Linked DNA regions of Homo sapiens. The protein of the gene in region 2 purifies or fractionates together with the protein of the main gene of each other region. This does not show direct contact. Each region holds a gene or a part of one and is shown on either strand. Other genes may lie near its edges.

Region 1 (4,142 bases), on a different chromosome or scaffold from region 2:
TTATTTATTTACATCTGCTATTTACAATCATAAACATTCTTATTCACTGCAAATAAACATGGGCAGCCTATCTCCTCCCCTCCACACTGTATGATGGATAATATGGAAATTCAAACCACACATCTTCTTTGCCACAAATCTGTAGTGAAATGACAGCCTTCTATAGACCCTCTGACCCTCAGAGATTTTCTTCCTTTTGGAGACATTTTGAGTATCTTTTTGACCATAATCAACATCTTATCAGGTAGGTCTCTTGTTCTAAGTAGCCGTTTCAAACTCTGAGGGTGTCCAGTGTCTATGAGCTTCCTGCCACTCACAATATTTATACTAGACGTTGCCAGGGGAAGAGAAGAGAGTCCAAAAATATGTCCAAATGCTGCCCTGTGAAGGTTGCTATTTATTTTCACAAACCTCAGGGCTGCATTCAGTTTCCCGTCTACCTGTGTAGGCAGCCATTTCTTCAGTGTATTCCCTATGTTCTAATTGGCTCGCTGTACAGATTCTTGGCTCTGTGCTTAGGAATTGTCATTGACTTTTAACCCACCTCACCTGCTGAGCAGCTTTCTGTGTTTTCATTAGTATTTCAGGCACCGAATCTCATTTTTAAAGTTATTATCAGGATTTTAATTGGTGGTTCTCACTATTCACCCTTAAGTTTAGTAATATTTAAATTTTTATTTTGTTGCATTTAATAAAAGAATCATAAAGAAAGAAAAATAATTAGGGAGAGAAAATAATTTCTTTAGAGGGAAAATGGAGGATTCCTTAGACTGAAGGCTGGTCAGTTAATGGGAATTGTGACTTATGCAGAGGATCTAATAATTGTAAGTATCATGGTTTTACTTGTTTGAATTAATAACTTTAAAAAATCTCAGTCTTGCATTAGCATATTTTCTGTCTCTTAACAACCGAAAATAACTGAAACTTTCCCAACATCTACTAAAATGGAAAGTTTGTCATTTTCTACTATGACCTGAGGGTTTGGCTACAAACAGATAATGGAATGAATAAGATGAGCATTCAAGTTATACCTGCCTGTTTAATATGGGGAGAAACTAAACCACCTGTAAAGAAAGCATGGGGTGAGAAGCCCCCATCACCTGTATAACCCTCGGTATTTCTGTTCACTTTAAGAGCCTGCCACTGAAAACATTCAGTAAAGGAGTGAATCTTCCTTGCCCCATCAAGAGTCGCTTTTCAGCTGGAGGAAGGGTGTGTCCCCAAGTTTTTACCTGGGAGCAATGATGATCTTGTCAAGCATTTCAGTGAGACCAGCCCAAGTTTTTAGGGTGGGGATCCAGACTGGTTATACGTACCTTCAGTCCTTCTCCCAGAGGAAGGCAGAAACACCTCAAAGCCTGCATGTAAGAACATCTACTGAGAAATTATTTTAATCAGACACCAGCTGAGTGGGAGAAAGAAAAAGAACAGAGAAGAACAAACAAAACTCCCTTGGTCTTGGATGTAAGAGAATCCAGCAGAGATGGACTGGAGTTTCTTCAGAGTAGTTGCAATGCTGTTCATTTTTCTGGTGAGTGGATTCTGGTAAAAGTCCTTCATAATCGTGCCCATTGTAAACAAGTGAAAACTTTTTAGAAAATGTTAGTGGGCATTATTTCTAACCTAAACCCATTGAAAATGTATATTAATGACAAGATGATTTTATGAACTAGATTTTTCAATAGCATTTCTCTCTTTAATTGAAGACTCAAGATCATGTTAATGCCTCAGTGTCAACTCATTGTATTACATCTCTGACACTGAAGTCATTGCTAAGTCATGCTGGGAAAAGACTGAATTTAGGAAATTCCTATCGCTAGTTAGTAGCACTTTGTCGTTCAAAATCTCTTCTGCAAGAGGGCTTTTAAACTAAATATCACAAGTGTGTCTGGATTTTTAACCTGTTTTTTTTTTTATTTTTTTTGTGTGTTTGGTGGTGGAATTACTCTAATTTTTAAAACATAAAAATAGCACCACATAATTTAAAATCGTAGCAGTTTGTGGCTGGTCTCGCTATCCAAATAAAGTCATCAGTTGCATATTTGGTTAGAATCTGTATCACTACTATAAAAAGCCCCGCACTATTTAACTATGATTTTATTTAAAACATTTTTAATTTCAAAAAACGGCAGTACAGGAGGTTTATAAATGACATATTAAGTGAAGAAGTGGCTATAATTAAAGAGTAAGTATAATTATTATTACACTCGATCTTACTACTGGAATGTCAGTGATGACTGCGATATAAAAGTTGTGCACTTGATCGTCTGACGAATGTAATGAAATACTTTATCATTGCCCCCTTACATGTAATTAGTTTTCTTGCTGTAGAGATAATACTAAGTGCACCACTAATGTATTATGTCAATTTCACTTTCAGTGAAAATTTGAAAATTGTAATCTCTCTCATAGTAAGGTTAATGTAATTCAAAAAGGCAGGTGCCAAGTAAATTGCCCTCCAGCTTGGCAGGATGTATAGTGCTGTGGTTCACATTTGTTTCTACTTGCTTAATTTTTGAACTGGAATGTTGGGTTGGTTGGTATAATAAGTTAGATCTTTGATTCAAAGTATGCTGGTTAGTTTGAATTCAGTTTTATTAACTAAGGCGGGACATAATCAGTGGATTTAGTTATAAATGAGCATCAGTAAGCTGGTGGCTTTGGTTCCAAGCTTTCCTTCAAACATTAGTCCTATCCCATGCTCTTTTCAGTGGATATTTAGGATCAGTTGATTTCATTACTTAGGATTTGGTAGGGATCACTGATCATTATACAGTATGTCATTTGAAATATGAGAGTTTCATATTGTCAGTAATCAAGCACTTTTACTTAAAATTTCAAATAAATTTGATCCATTAAGAGCTATTATAGTTTTAGTTGATCAGCTTGTTCAGATAGGTGTACACTAACTTTCATAGAATCTCTAAGATGTGCCTTATTTGTTGATTTATTTATTTCAAATTAATTATAGCATATCAAATTTCTTTAAACAGCCACTTCCTATTTAGTCATTCTTCAATAAAATGTATCATCATCAAAATCATATATCTTTATTGAACTTTCTCTAGCTGTGCCTAGATTTTTTTTTGTTGGCTTATGGGGGTTTTTTTGGGAATGGGGGAAGAGGAGGTTACCTTATTTTATATTGAAATTAATCACAAGTCTCCCACATGCCTTATGAAAATTTTTTCTCAAAGAACTTACACTATCATGAATTACAATGTTTCATTTTCACGTTGACATCATAGGTTTTTTTGGAAAACATTTCACTTTCTAAGGTTTGGAAGATCAAAATTTATTTTAAGTACAGATTTTACCACATGGGATAATTTTGGTAATTGTGCTTTGGAGTTTCCTAATCTGTATTTTTCTTTAAAATACTTTTTTTCTTCATAAAACAACCACCACTATAGCAAATTCTTTCAGTTATCTTTCTCCTAGTCTCATTATAAATGCATGCTTTTACCAAAAAATGAAAAAAAATTTATGTAAAGTCTTTATATTCGTCTCTACTCAAAGTCAATAAGCGGGAACCTGCATTAGGAAGCGTATTTGTACAATTGTTAAGGCCTTTAAGATATTTAAATTGGTAGTGTCTTTTAAGCAAATCTACCTGAGAACTGGGTAACTATTTGTTTGCAAGCATACTGTGTATTCATCTCAATGCATCTGAAGGTTGTGAACCTTGTTCAAATGAGTGGGTTGAATCAGGGAGAACAAAGCTGGAGGAGCTGCTCTTACAGCAATCAAGATCGCTCTATGGCTATTCCATTGTTCTGACAAGTCTCCTGGACAGGCAAGAGATTACACCTGCTATAACACTGCAAGTCAAACACATTTTGTTAATTCTGCATCTATTTTTCATTCTTCTTTTTGTTTCCATGTAATCAGTGTATGGAGTAGAGAAAGGAGTTAGAATGTATTTTCTCTAGGCCTGAGAACAATGCTTCTTATGCACCAAATAAAAGAAATCTATGTGCATGTATATGACAATGGTAAAAAGTACAGCATGGTCACTGTGGGAAAGCAAAACAGAGCCAGAGGGATCTCTATGGTTTTAATGATTTCTGAAAATTACTTGCAACTTTGCCAGGTCCAATTAGTCCATTTAAGTCAATACAAATCTGAAGATGTCTTTTTCT
Region 2 (3,500 bases):
GATCACACAAAAAATCTAATGAGAAAAGCCCTATCTTTTGATTGCTTAGCGATAAACATGTTTATAAAAAATGTATTCTTAGTCTCCACCTTGTTTATTCTGTCATTAACAATTTTTATTTAGAACGCATGCTGATTCTGCAAAATCCACCTCTTCTGAAACAGACTGCAATGATAACGTCCCTTCTCATAAAAATCCTGCTTCCTCCCAGAGCAAACATGGAATGAATGGCTTTTTTCAGCAGCAAATGATATACGACTCTCCACCTTCACGTGCCCCATCTGCTTCAGTTGACTCCAGCCTTTATAACCTGCCCAGGAGTTATTCCCATGATGTTTTACCAAAGGTGTCTCCATCAAGTACTGAAGCAGATGGAGAACTCTATGTTTTTAATACCCCATCTGGGACATCGAGTGTAGAGACTCAAATGAGGCATGTATCTATTAGTTATGACATTCCTCCAACACCTGGTAATACTTATCAGATTCCACGAACATTTCCAGAAGGAACCTTGGGACAGACATCAAAGCTAGACACTATTCCAGATATTCCTCCACCTCGGCCACCGAAACCACATCCAGCTCATGACCGATCTCCTGTGGAAACGTGTAGTATCCCACGCACCGCCTCAGACACTGACAGTAGTTACTGTATCCCTACAGCAGGGATGTCGCCTTCACGTAGTAATACCATTTCCACTGTGGATTTAAACAAATTGCGAAAAGGTCAGCTCTAGTTGACTTCTTCTCTATTAGAGGTTAATGATAGAAAATCGATTTTTCTGAATATTTGTTCTTTTAAGCGTAGTTAAATATACTATGCTACAAAATACAGTCCATTTTTTTCCAGCTCTACAGCTACCTGGAAGGGTATATTGCATTCATGCTCTGCTGGAAGGGAAAAAGAGTTGGAGTTTCTCACCCCTGAAGAAGTATGGCCTTAGTAATGCCTTCCTGCCTCAGGAAGTGTGCCCTTCTCTCTCCCACTTTCTATAATCCTGGGTGGATAGGCCCTCTGTTGGGACAGAAGGGCAGGAAATGGACCAGCCACAAAGCCTCTCCGAGTCATACCCTTTCCTGTATTTGTGTGCCATTATGGCCGCTTCTAAGTCACATCTGTTGGGCTCTATTTCCTTCCTTCCTATATAAGCAGTTTTTATGTTGTGTCTAACAGGTGATATTCTGTTCCAGTCAAGCCATTATGCTGTTTGATTTTTACTTGTGTTTAAAGAGCTGAATCTTCTTTCCCCTTATCACTACCCACTTCACTCATTGCTAGTGAGTATACTTTCCTATACTGTCTCCTAGAGTCTGTATCCAAAAGTTACAGACCTTGAGAGGAGAAGAAAAAAATGAGTCTGGGTGATTCTCTGAGATTCTCAAAGTCCTACAAATAGAAAGCTAAAGTTTTTAATGCACATATCCTAAACAGTATGTGCTAAAATTTCTGTATTTTGTGGTAGAGTTTTCCTCAGCTATCTCCAAGATTTTAATGTATCTGTGATTATTACTTAAATCAGTACTTATTTCACCATTCAATAACAGTATCTAACTCCTTTCTTGAAGTGACTGTATAACCTGGTTATCAGTTAGTGAGATGTAAGTTATGCCCAAGGTGGTGCAAACGATGAGAAAATAGAGGTGTTTCTCTTCATCTTTAGATAACCTATCTTATCCCAGACTTAGACATTCACTCACACTCAAAATTAGATATTGGTATTGGTTAGCATATGAGTGAGTGTCTGCATTTTCTAGTGGTTTAATATGCCAATTCAAGACACAGTTCTATGAGCATCCTTTTTAAAATTCTGTGTGTGTGCATGTGTGTATGCATATGTATAATGAGAGAAAGATAATAGGTCATCCCAATGACCCTGAGAGCTGGCAAAGATGGGAATAAATGTTGATAGTTTGTTCTTTATTTTAGATGCTAGTTCTCAAGACTGCTATGATATTCCACGAGCATTTCCAAGTGATAGATCTAGTTCACTTGAAGGCTTCCATAACCACTTTGTAAGTATAATTGACCTTGGCATCATCAAGTGTATTTCATTGTCTAAATCTTCATAATTAGTGCCATGAGACTAAGTGATATCATGAAATAAAAGTACGCTGAGATCCATATGAATGAGTGTGACTTACAATTGTGTTTTCATGTGTGACAAGAGTTTTTGTTTATTAAAAGAAATATATATGTGTTTTAGAAAGTCAAAAATGTGTTGACAGTGGGAAGTGTTTCAAGTGAAGAACTGGATGAAAATTACGTCCCAATGAATCCCAATTCACCACCACGACAACATTCCAGCAGTTTTACAGAACCAATTCAGGAAGCAAATTATGTGCCAATGACTCCAGGAACATTTGATTTTTCCTCATTTGGAATGCAAGTTCCTCCTCCTGCTCATATGGGCTTCAGGTCCAGCCCAAAAACCCCTCCCAGAAGGCCAGTTCCTGTTGCAGACTGTGAACCACCCCCCGTGGATAGGAACCTCAAGCCAGACAGAAAAGGTAAGGAGAGCATGGCAAAGTAAAAGGCTTGGGGAGTGCCAAGTTAGATCTATCTTTAACTGCCATTAAATCCAAAATAGAATTTGGACTAGAAATTCTGAAATATTTCATAGTTCCATAGCCATCAAGTTATTTAAGCAAAGCAGTACTGCCATTTATAAATTAACAATTATGATATCACATGTTGATGTGAGGTGATATTTATAAGTCTCCTATCTCTAGAGCAGAGGTTACAAGCTGAAATACTCACGGGGTGAGCGGACAACTGGGGAGAATTAGAAGAAACTGGACTGCCGTAGCCCCATCTAATGGGAGTAACTAACCTACACTGCTACAATCCTTTGTTGACTTGTGAAATGATGCACCCATGCAGGCAAATCTTCTGGTATATCAGGAAAAGCCAGAGATTTCAGATTTTATATGTATTATCTCTCAATTTTTAAAGTTCTATCAACTAATTTAATTATTAAGAAAACATTGCAGGCCAACCCAAACACTTCTGCAAGCTAGATAATGGCCTTCAGCTGCTATTTAGTAACCTCTTCTCCAGAGTATATAATATCAAATCAGACTTAAGATTATTAATGTATTTGACATAATTATTTAAGAACAGTGAGACTGTATAATCTTTCCATTCTGTTCATATAACAACTTCTTAAAAATTACTTTGCCTTTGCTGGGGTAATACATGCTTCTAGTCTGTCATTTTTTTTTCCATGCTGGCCTTCATAAGTAACATTAAGTTCTAAGGTAACATAGTTTGTTAAGAAGTCTGTAAAAGAAACTGTTCAGCCAAATTGGGTAATGCCTACCCAGGTTTTTTAAATTGGGGTTTAAGTTGTTAAAACACAGACAATTTGATTTGTTGCACCATGCTGTTAGTGTGGCTTAATCTTGACAACCAAGTAAATTAGCATAAATGTAAATGTGATGAATGATACAATATCTGGCTTACATTAGGGTGTTTCAGCACATTTGAAAAGTCTCATGTGC
Region 3 (3,500 bases), on a different chromosome or scaffold from region 2:
GAGACTCGGCTCTAGCATCATTTCCAGTCGAGTTGGTCTCCCTTCCTCTGCATTCTGATAACTGTTAACCATCAAGTGACTTGAGCTTCCCAGGGAAGGGCATCATGTCTTTGTAGACATCCAATAAATGTTAGTAGAAGAAAGGGGGGTCCTGCCAATAATCATATGTCTTTCCCACAATTTAAACTCCTTTTCACCCTGTTACTACTTTTTGCTTGTCTTCCCTTTGATAAACATTCTACTTCTTCATCACCCATTCCCTCAATTTAACATCTGATACTACTATAGAAACTACTGCCTTGAAGATCAACAAACGGGTTCCATGTGGACCAACGTCCTCCTTGAGACCCTCACTTGGCTTTTGTGACACAGTGCAATATTTGCTCTCTTGATGCCTCACTGACCTTAACCTTCCTTGACTCCTGCATAGATTTCTCAACTGTGGGTATCCCCTAAGATTTAGGCCATTTGCCTTCTCTTCTTTCATCTAGTCCATTCATGAACACACCCATTCCTGGTTTTAACCATCACCTCTGTGCAGATAATGTGCAAAGTTTATTTCTAGTCGGAGTGGAGTCTCTGTTACTCTGCCAATCAAGTTCTAAATTTTTATTCCTTCTAGTGCAGCAGTGGCAAATACCTGACACTCATGTGTCTCACTCAAGACAGATACTGTTTCACCCAAGACTGATCATGCCGCTTTCCCAGTCAAGGCAGGCTTCTCAGAATCCTTCTCATTTCCGCCTCTGTTCTTTGGCACTAATGCTCTGTCTGCCCAGAGTTTTCATTCTTCACTTGTTCCAGGCACCTGCTTCCTGGTGAATAATGTAAAACCTGCTAGTCATCCTTATAGGAGAATATGCACTCATTTCCCAGCAGCACACCCGACTCAACGTGGTTAAAACCAATCTACCATTCCCATATATTCAGCCTAACTTCCCAGTGCAGTCTACCCTAGTTTTATAACTTGTTCTACTTTTTCCAGATAACTGCTAATCATCTTTGTTTGTCTTTGCTTTCTTTTTTGCACTGTGTTTGATATATTAGGGTATCAAATCCTACTTATTCAAATATGTCCCTTATTCATTCCTTCTATCCTTGGTGCTACCATATTTGTTCTGGCTCTTGTTACCTCATTATGGGATATAAAAATAGCCTGTCAACTGGTCTTTCCATTGCCAGGATCTCTCTGTTCTAAGCCACCCTGCCTCCAGATCAATCTTCCTAGAGTAAAACCTTCATTGTATGACGGTCTAGCTCAAAATTCCTTAATGATTATTAATCACCTCTTAAAGTCCCCAATTCTTAGACTATTAGTAGGGTAAAATTATTTTTGATTTGGAGTCAAAAAATTTTGGACGCAAATTTTGGCTACTACACTTAACCATTATGTAACTTCGAATTTCGGCTTAATTTTTATTCATCATTTATTCAGTATCTATTTGTTTAACACCTTCTGCATCTCAGGCTCTGTACTAGGTACTTGGGATACAATGATGAGCCAAGCAGACCTTGTCCTTGCTCTCCTGGACCTCACAACATGGTGAACTTGTCTCTATTGCTCATGATCATAATAATCCTAAGTACAGGCTGTGCTTTTTTCCCTTGATACTTGTAGCTTTTGGTTTGTGCTATGCAGGGTATTGTAATACCATTTGCAGTGCCACAATAATCAGCATATATGTGTTATCACTCAGCCACATTGCAGCTTCACTGAAGGGCAGGGGCTATGTCCCATTTCTCATAGCGCAAGCACAGTGCCCTGCACATACCAGCTGCTCAGTGATTTCTGATGTGGTTTTTGTAGATCCAGGGTTAGTCTTTGGCAGTCATGATGCCTAGTATGTTTTTAGAGGCTCCCTTTGTCCTATCAGAATTATGCTATTTAAAAAAAAGTCATACCTATTTAGTTTATATTCATTCTAAGGCCTCTCCTTTCCAACCTACTACCCTGCCTATAACTATTATAAGGAGAACTCACAATGTTTATAACTTGTGCACCTTAAGTTTTAAATACTGAATAACAGGCCCATTCATGTTTCCTCATAGAAATACTGTCTATATGCATACAATGAAATGTTAAAATAATGTTCTTTTTACTAAATAGCTTTTTGACTTGGTAATGAACAATATGTTGTTTTTCCCTGAGAAGTAGTTCTAGGACTTTAGTTCTGAAGATTATGTTGTATTTTATACATTTTCAGCCTCCTGTTTTTCAGTTCCCAGTGATCTTACATTAAACATTTGTCTGTCTAAAACAATAGGTTAACTATAGCCAAATTATAACCATACCATTCCTCTCCACACAAAATCCTATAAACAGCATGTGATCATATTGCTTCTAGAATTTATGATTGTTTTCTTCCAAAAGGAAGCTAAATTTAGCCTAGTAATTCTACATGCGCTCAAGAAAACAATGCCTGCTGTGATTTCTAGAATAAATGAATGTGAACCACAGTTCCTTTACTTGACTAACAGAGAAAGTTTAAATATCAACCTAGTCATTAACCACAGTTATTAAACCACGTTAAACAACCAGCAAGGGGTTAAGAAAGAAAGTTGCTATGTTTTTTCTTTCATTGCTGAATGAGTCTAACTTAGTTACTGTATCAACCTTAATACAGAACATTGTTTGCATCTCAATGGTTCTCTAAAATTATTCGTTCATGGCTTGAGTTCTAAAATTAAACTATGTGGAGTCATGTCCAACCGCACAATGCATCTTTATGTGAAACTTGCTAGAGTTTTTGTTTTCCTTCTATGTAAAAGTCCAGTTGGGAAGCTTTATTTCTGATAGATTAAATGGTATAGGTCTTTCAGTTTTCTCTTCATTTCTGACAACTGAACTGCTCTCGCCTTGAACCTGTTTTGGCAGATAAACCTCTCATAATGAAGGCCCCCGCTGTGCTTGCACCTGGCATCCTCGTGCTCCTGTTTACCTTGGTGCAGAGGAGCAATGGGGAGTGTAAAGAGGCACTAGCAAAGTCCGAGATGAATGTGAATATGAAGTATCAGCTTCCCAACTTCACCGCGGAAACACCCATCCAGAATGTCATTCTACATGAGCATCACATTTTCCTTGGTGCCACTAACTACATTTATGTTTTAAATGAGGAAGACCTTCAGAAGGTTGCTGAGTACAAGACTGGGCCTGTGCTGGAACACCCAGATTGTTTCCCATGTCAGGACTGCAGCAGCAAAGCCAATTTATCAGGAGGTGTTTGGAAAGATAACATCAACATGGCTCTAGTTGTCGACACCTACTATGATGATCAACTCATTAGCTGTGGCAGCGTCAACAGAGGGACCTGCCAGCGACATGTCTTTCCCCACAATCATACTGCTGACATACAGTCGGAGGTTCACTGCATATTCTCCCCACAGATAGAAGAGCCCAGCCAGTGTCCTGACTGTGTGGTGAGCGCCCTGGGAGCCAAAGTCCTTTCATCTGTAAAGGACCGGTTCATCAACTTCTTTGTAGGCAATACCATAAATTCTTC
Region 4 (3,500 bases), on a different chromosome or scaffold from region 2:
AAATTGGCTGGGTGCCATGGCTCACGCCTGTACTCTCAACACTTTAGGAGGCTGAGGTGGGCAGATGACCTGAGATCAGGAGCTCAAGACAACCCTGGCCAACGTGGTCAAACCCCATCTCTACTAATAATGCGTAAGTTAGCTGGGCGTGGTGGCGGGCACCTGTAATCCCAGCTACTCCAGAGGCTGAGGCAGGGAGAAATCGCTTGAACCTGGGAGGTGGAGGTTGCAGTGAGCCGAAACTGAGCCACTGCACTCGAGCCTGGGGCAACAGAGCGAGACTCTGTCTCGAAAATAAATAAATAAATAAATAAATAAAAAATGAAGAGCTGTACCTATTCCCAAAACTTTTATAAAGGGAAATCAAACCACTGTAGACATTACTATCTTAGCACTGCTTTTAAATGCTATAAAAATGAACATCCATAACCACAAATTATGTGAAATGCAATAGTTAACCTAACATTGACATAGAAGAGCTGATTTACCCAATGTGTTATTTTTAACTCAATCCCCAACCTTAATTAAAAGAAAAAAGACTTACGATGAGGTCTGGCACCCTGAGCAGTCCAGCGAGGACTTGGTCTTAGTTGAGCAATTTGGCTAGGAGGATAGTATGCAGCACGGTTCTGAGTCTGCAGGGAAAAAAAGCACATGAGTTTATCAGTTGAAGAAAAAAGCAAATAATGCAATAAATTATATGTACTTTTTCAAAACATTTACCAGGACTTCACACTCAAGCATTTTTTCCTACTCAATCATAATTCCCCTTTCTTAATGTTTCACATTTGCGGGGCGAGGGGCACAAAAAACACTAGAAATGACCAAATACGAAAACCTTCATGGTTCTGGTTGCCTTCTAAAACCTACCTGTGGGATAGCTGCCATGAAGTAACCTGAAGGAGGTGCTGGCTGGTAGGGGTTGATTACAGGGTTGGGAACAGCTCGTACACTTGCCATTCTCTGCATATACTGGTTAGTGAGGTGAGCCTGGCGCTCTTCTTTGCGCTGAGCTAAAGCTACATACAATGGCTTTGTGGCCACAATTCTACCGTTCATTTCTGTAACTGCTTTAGTGGCTTCTTCTGGGGAGGAGAAACATACAAAACCAAACCCTTTGCTGCGACCACCCTCCATCATAACCTATTAAAAAAAAGAAAAAAAAAGTTAACGTAATGGTAGAATGAGGAGCAAAAAAAGAGCGTTACAATTTAGACAATTATAAATCACTGAATCAAATAACTAAACCCTGTTAATGCTTAATCATCTTGTATTTACCCATTGAGTTCACAATTTTTCCTTAATACCCAATTATTAAGGGCAAACTACACATATGCATTACCCTAGCCAGGTCAGAGAACTGACAGAAGTGAAGGCTGCACAGAAACTTTTAAAGATTTTAGATACTGAATTTGATTGGATTTTCAATATTGAAATTTAATTATCTAAATAAATACATCCCAGGCCTACTAAATTGACTTTTGGGCACCACTGGAAGCATTTCCCAATTAAATTTTGACTATTCTAACAATTCAAGCTGACAAGATGCTTCACTATGCCTTTGAGAAAAAAGTAGTTGAATCTTACAATACCCACATCTTAAAATAAAAGTTTTTACATTCAAGAGCAGAGGATCCATAAATATTACGGTATAAAGAACACTCAAGAGGAAGGTTCTTCTAAAATTGATTGCAAAGACCTTTTAAATGAGCAATGAAGACTTGCAAAGAACCACTCGCTAGGCCAGCAATATATATAAGCATGCTATAAAACTACATTAACAGTATGCGAGTGGCATAGGAACAAACGGTAATAAAACAGAGGCCAGAAATATACCCAAGCAATTATGGGAATTCACTGTGCTAAAGTTAACATTTTAAAGTACTGGGGAAAAAGGACTTTGGGCTACTCAATACATGACACACTGGGACAAATGAAAAAATGTAGAACTCTTAATTCACATTACATTGAAAAATCTTAAATGCCAGGTAGATTCTGAATCTGAACATAGAATGTAGAAATAGAGAGAAAACCTTTCTAAGATGACACACACACAAAGTGAGGTCTATAAAGTGGAAAATTCGAAGAAAATATTTCCAATATAAAACAAATGTTTGGCCGGGCGCGGTGGCTCACGCCTGTAATCCTAGCACTTTGGGAGGCCAAGGCGGGTGGATCACCTGAAGTCAGGAGTTCGAGACCAGCCTGGCCAACGTGGCGAAACCCCGTCTTTACTAAAAATACAAAAATTAGCCGGGCATGGTGGCAGGTGCATATAATCCCAGCTACTCGGGAAGCTGAGACAGGAAAACTGCTTGAACCCAGGGGGTGGAAGTTGCAGTGAACTGAGATCACACCACTTCACTCCATCTCAAAAAAATAAAACAAATGTTCCCTTAATCAATAAAAAGACAGACAACCAGCCAGGCACGGTGGCTCACGCCTGTAATCCCAACACTTTAGGAGGTCACCTGAGGTCAGGAGTTGGAAGACCAGCTTGGCCAACATGGTGAAACCCCATCTCTACTAAAAATACCAAAAATTAGCTGGGCGTAGTGGCACATGCCTGTAATCCCAGCTACCCAGGAGGCTGAGGCAGGAGAATCGCTTGAACCCGGGAGGCGGAGGCTGCAGTGAGCTGAGATTGCACCACCGCACTCCAGCCCAGGCGAGAGTGAGACTCGTCTTTAAAAAAGACAAAAAAAAAACACCTCATAAGTTTAAGAATTTGTGTTGCACTGCATTAAAAGCATTCTTGGGCCGCATGTGGCCTGCAAGCAGCGGGTTGGACAAGCTTGGCTTAAGCCCAGGAAAGGCTGAGGCTGCAGTGAGCTGTGATTGTGGCATGCCCCTGCACTCCAACCTGGGCAACATAATGAGATCCTGTCTCAAGAAACAGAAAAACATGCATGCTTCATACATTCAAAATATGCTGATGCACAACACTCAATTTAAACAATATCCAGGGAACACACTGAAGACAAAAACATTCAGGAATAAATTCTATCGTACTCCAATACTCTTACATAAAAAGCATAATCTGAAACACAAGACAACCATGGCACTTCCATCTTACTTGTATTCAACCACCTTTCCCCTAACATTTCCTCACTCTCACAGAAGCTTCCTCGGACTTGCCAGGAAAAGCTGACTAGAAAGATCAGCCACAGCGTCATTCCAGTTCAGTTGAGTTGTAATTTTTTTCTATGCACTCTTCCCCAACCCCAGCAAAATTATGTATGCACAAAACCTTGCATATAGGGGGACTCTTGGCCCACGGATGCTAGACAAAAACATCTAGAAGAGAACTTCTTAAATCAAGATTTCAGAATTTGTACTAGAATACTACTGCTTTGTTTCTTAATCTCTGATTTCAAATAAAAGAAAATATGATCTCTATTCTTACTGCTAGGGGGCAGGGGAGGGAACTGGGGCTTGACTACCCAGAATGAATTGTAGAAATGAATAAACAGATCAGAACTATAGTAACAATTATAAGT

What was found.
Region 1: the proteins of GAB1 (region 2) and DSG1 purify together in Homo sapiens (affinity purification with mass spectrometry; one large-scale study listed by BioGRID and IntAct). This does not show direct contact.
Region 3: the proteins of GAB1 (region 2) and MET purify together in Homo sapiens (affinity purification with western blotting; 3 studies listed by BioGRID and IntAct, with this or other methods). This does not show direct contact.
Region 4: the proteins of GAB1 (region 2) and PABPC1 purify together in Homo sapiens (affinity purification with mass spectrometry; one large-scale study listed by BioGRID and IntAct). This does not show direct contact.

Annotation. Positions count from the first base shown.
Region 1 is NC_000018.10:31,316,818-31,320,959, forward strand, and holds the start of DSG1 (desmoglein-1 preproprotein), read left to right. Parts: upstream 1-1,342; 5' UTR 1,343-1,483; coding exon 1,484-1,531; intron 1,532-4,142. UniProt on the Homo sapiens protein: Component of intercellular desmosome junctions. Involved in the interaction of plaque proteins and intermediate filaments mediating cell-cell adhesion.
Region 2 is NC_000004.12:143,437,876-143,441,375, forward strand, and holds part of GAB1 (GRB2-associated-binding protein 1), read left to right. Parts: intron 1-123; coding exon 124-725; intron 726-1,926; coding exon 1,927-2,012; intron 2,013-2,203; coding exon 2,204-2,507; intron 2,508-3,500. UniProt on the Homo sapiens protein: Adapter protein that plays a role in intracellular signaling cascades triggered by activated receptor-type kinases. Plays a role in FGFR1 signaling. Probably involved in signaling by the epidermal growth factor receptor (EGFR) and the insulin receptor (INSR).
Region 3 is NC_000007.14:116,696,196-116,699,695, forward strand, and holds part of MET (hepatocyte growth factor receptor isoform b preproprotein), read left to right. Parts: intron 1-2,875; coding exon of another isoform or gene 2,876-2,889; coding exon 2,890-3,500. UniProt on the Homo sapiens protein: Receptor tyrosine kinase that transduces signals from the extracellular matrix into the cytoplasm by binding to hepatocyte growth factor/HGF ligand. Regulates many physiological processes including proliferation, scattering, morphogenesis and survival.
Region 4 is NC_000008.11:100,708,589-100,712,088, forward strand, and holds part of PABPC1 (polyadenylate-binding protein 1), read right to left. Parts: intron 1,144-3,500; coding exon 871-1,143; intron 636-870; coding exon 545-635; intron 1-544. UniProt on the Homo sapiens protein: Binds the poly(A) tail of mRNA, including that of its own transcript, and regulates processes of mRNA metabolism such as pre-mRNA splicing and mRNA stability.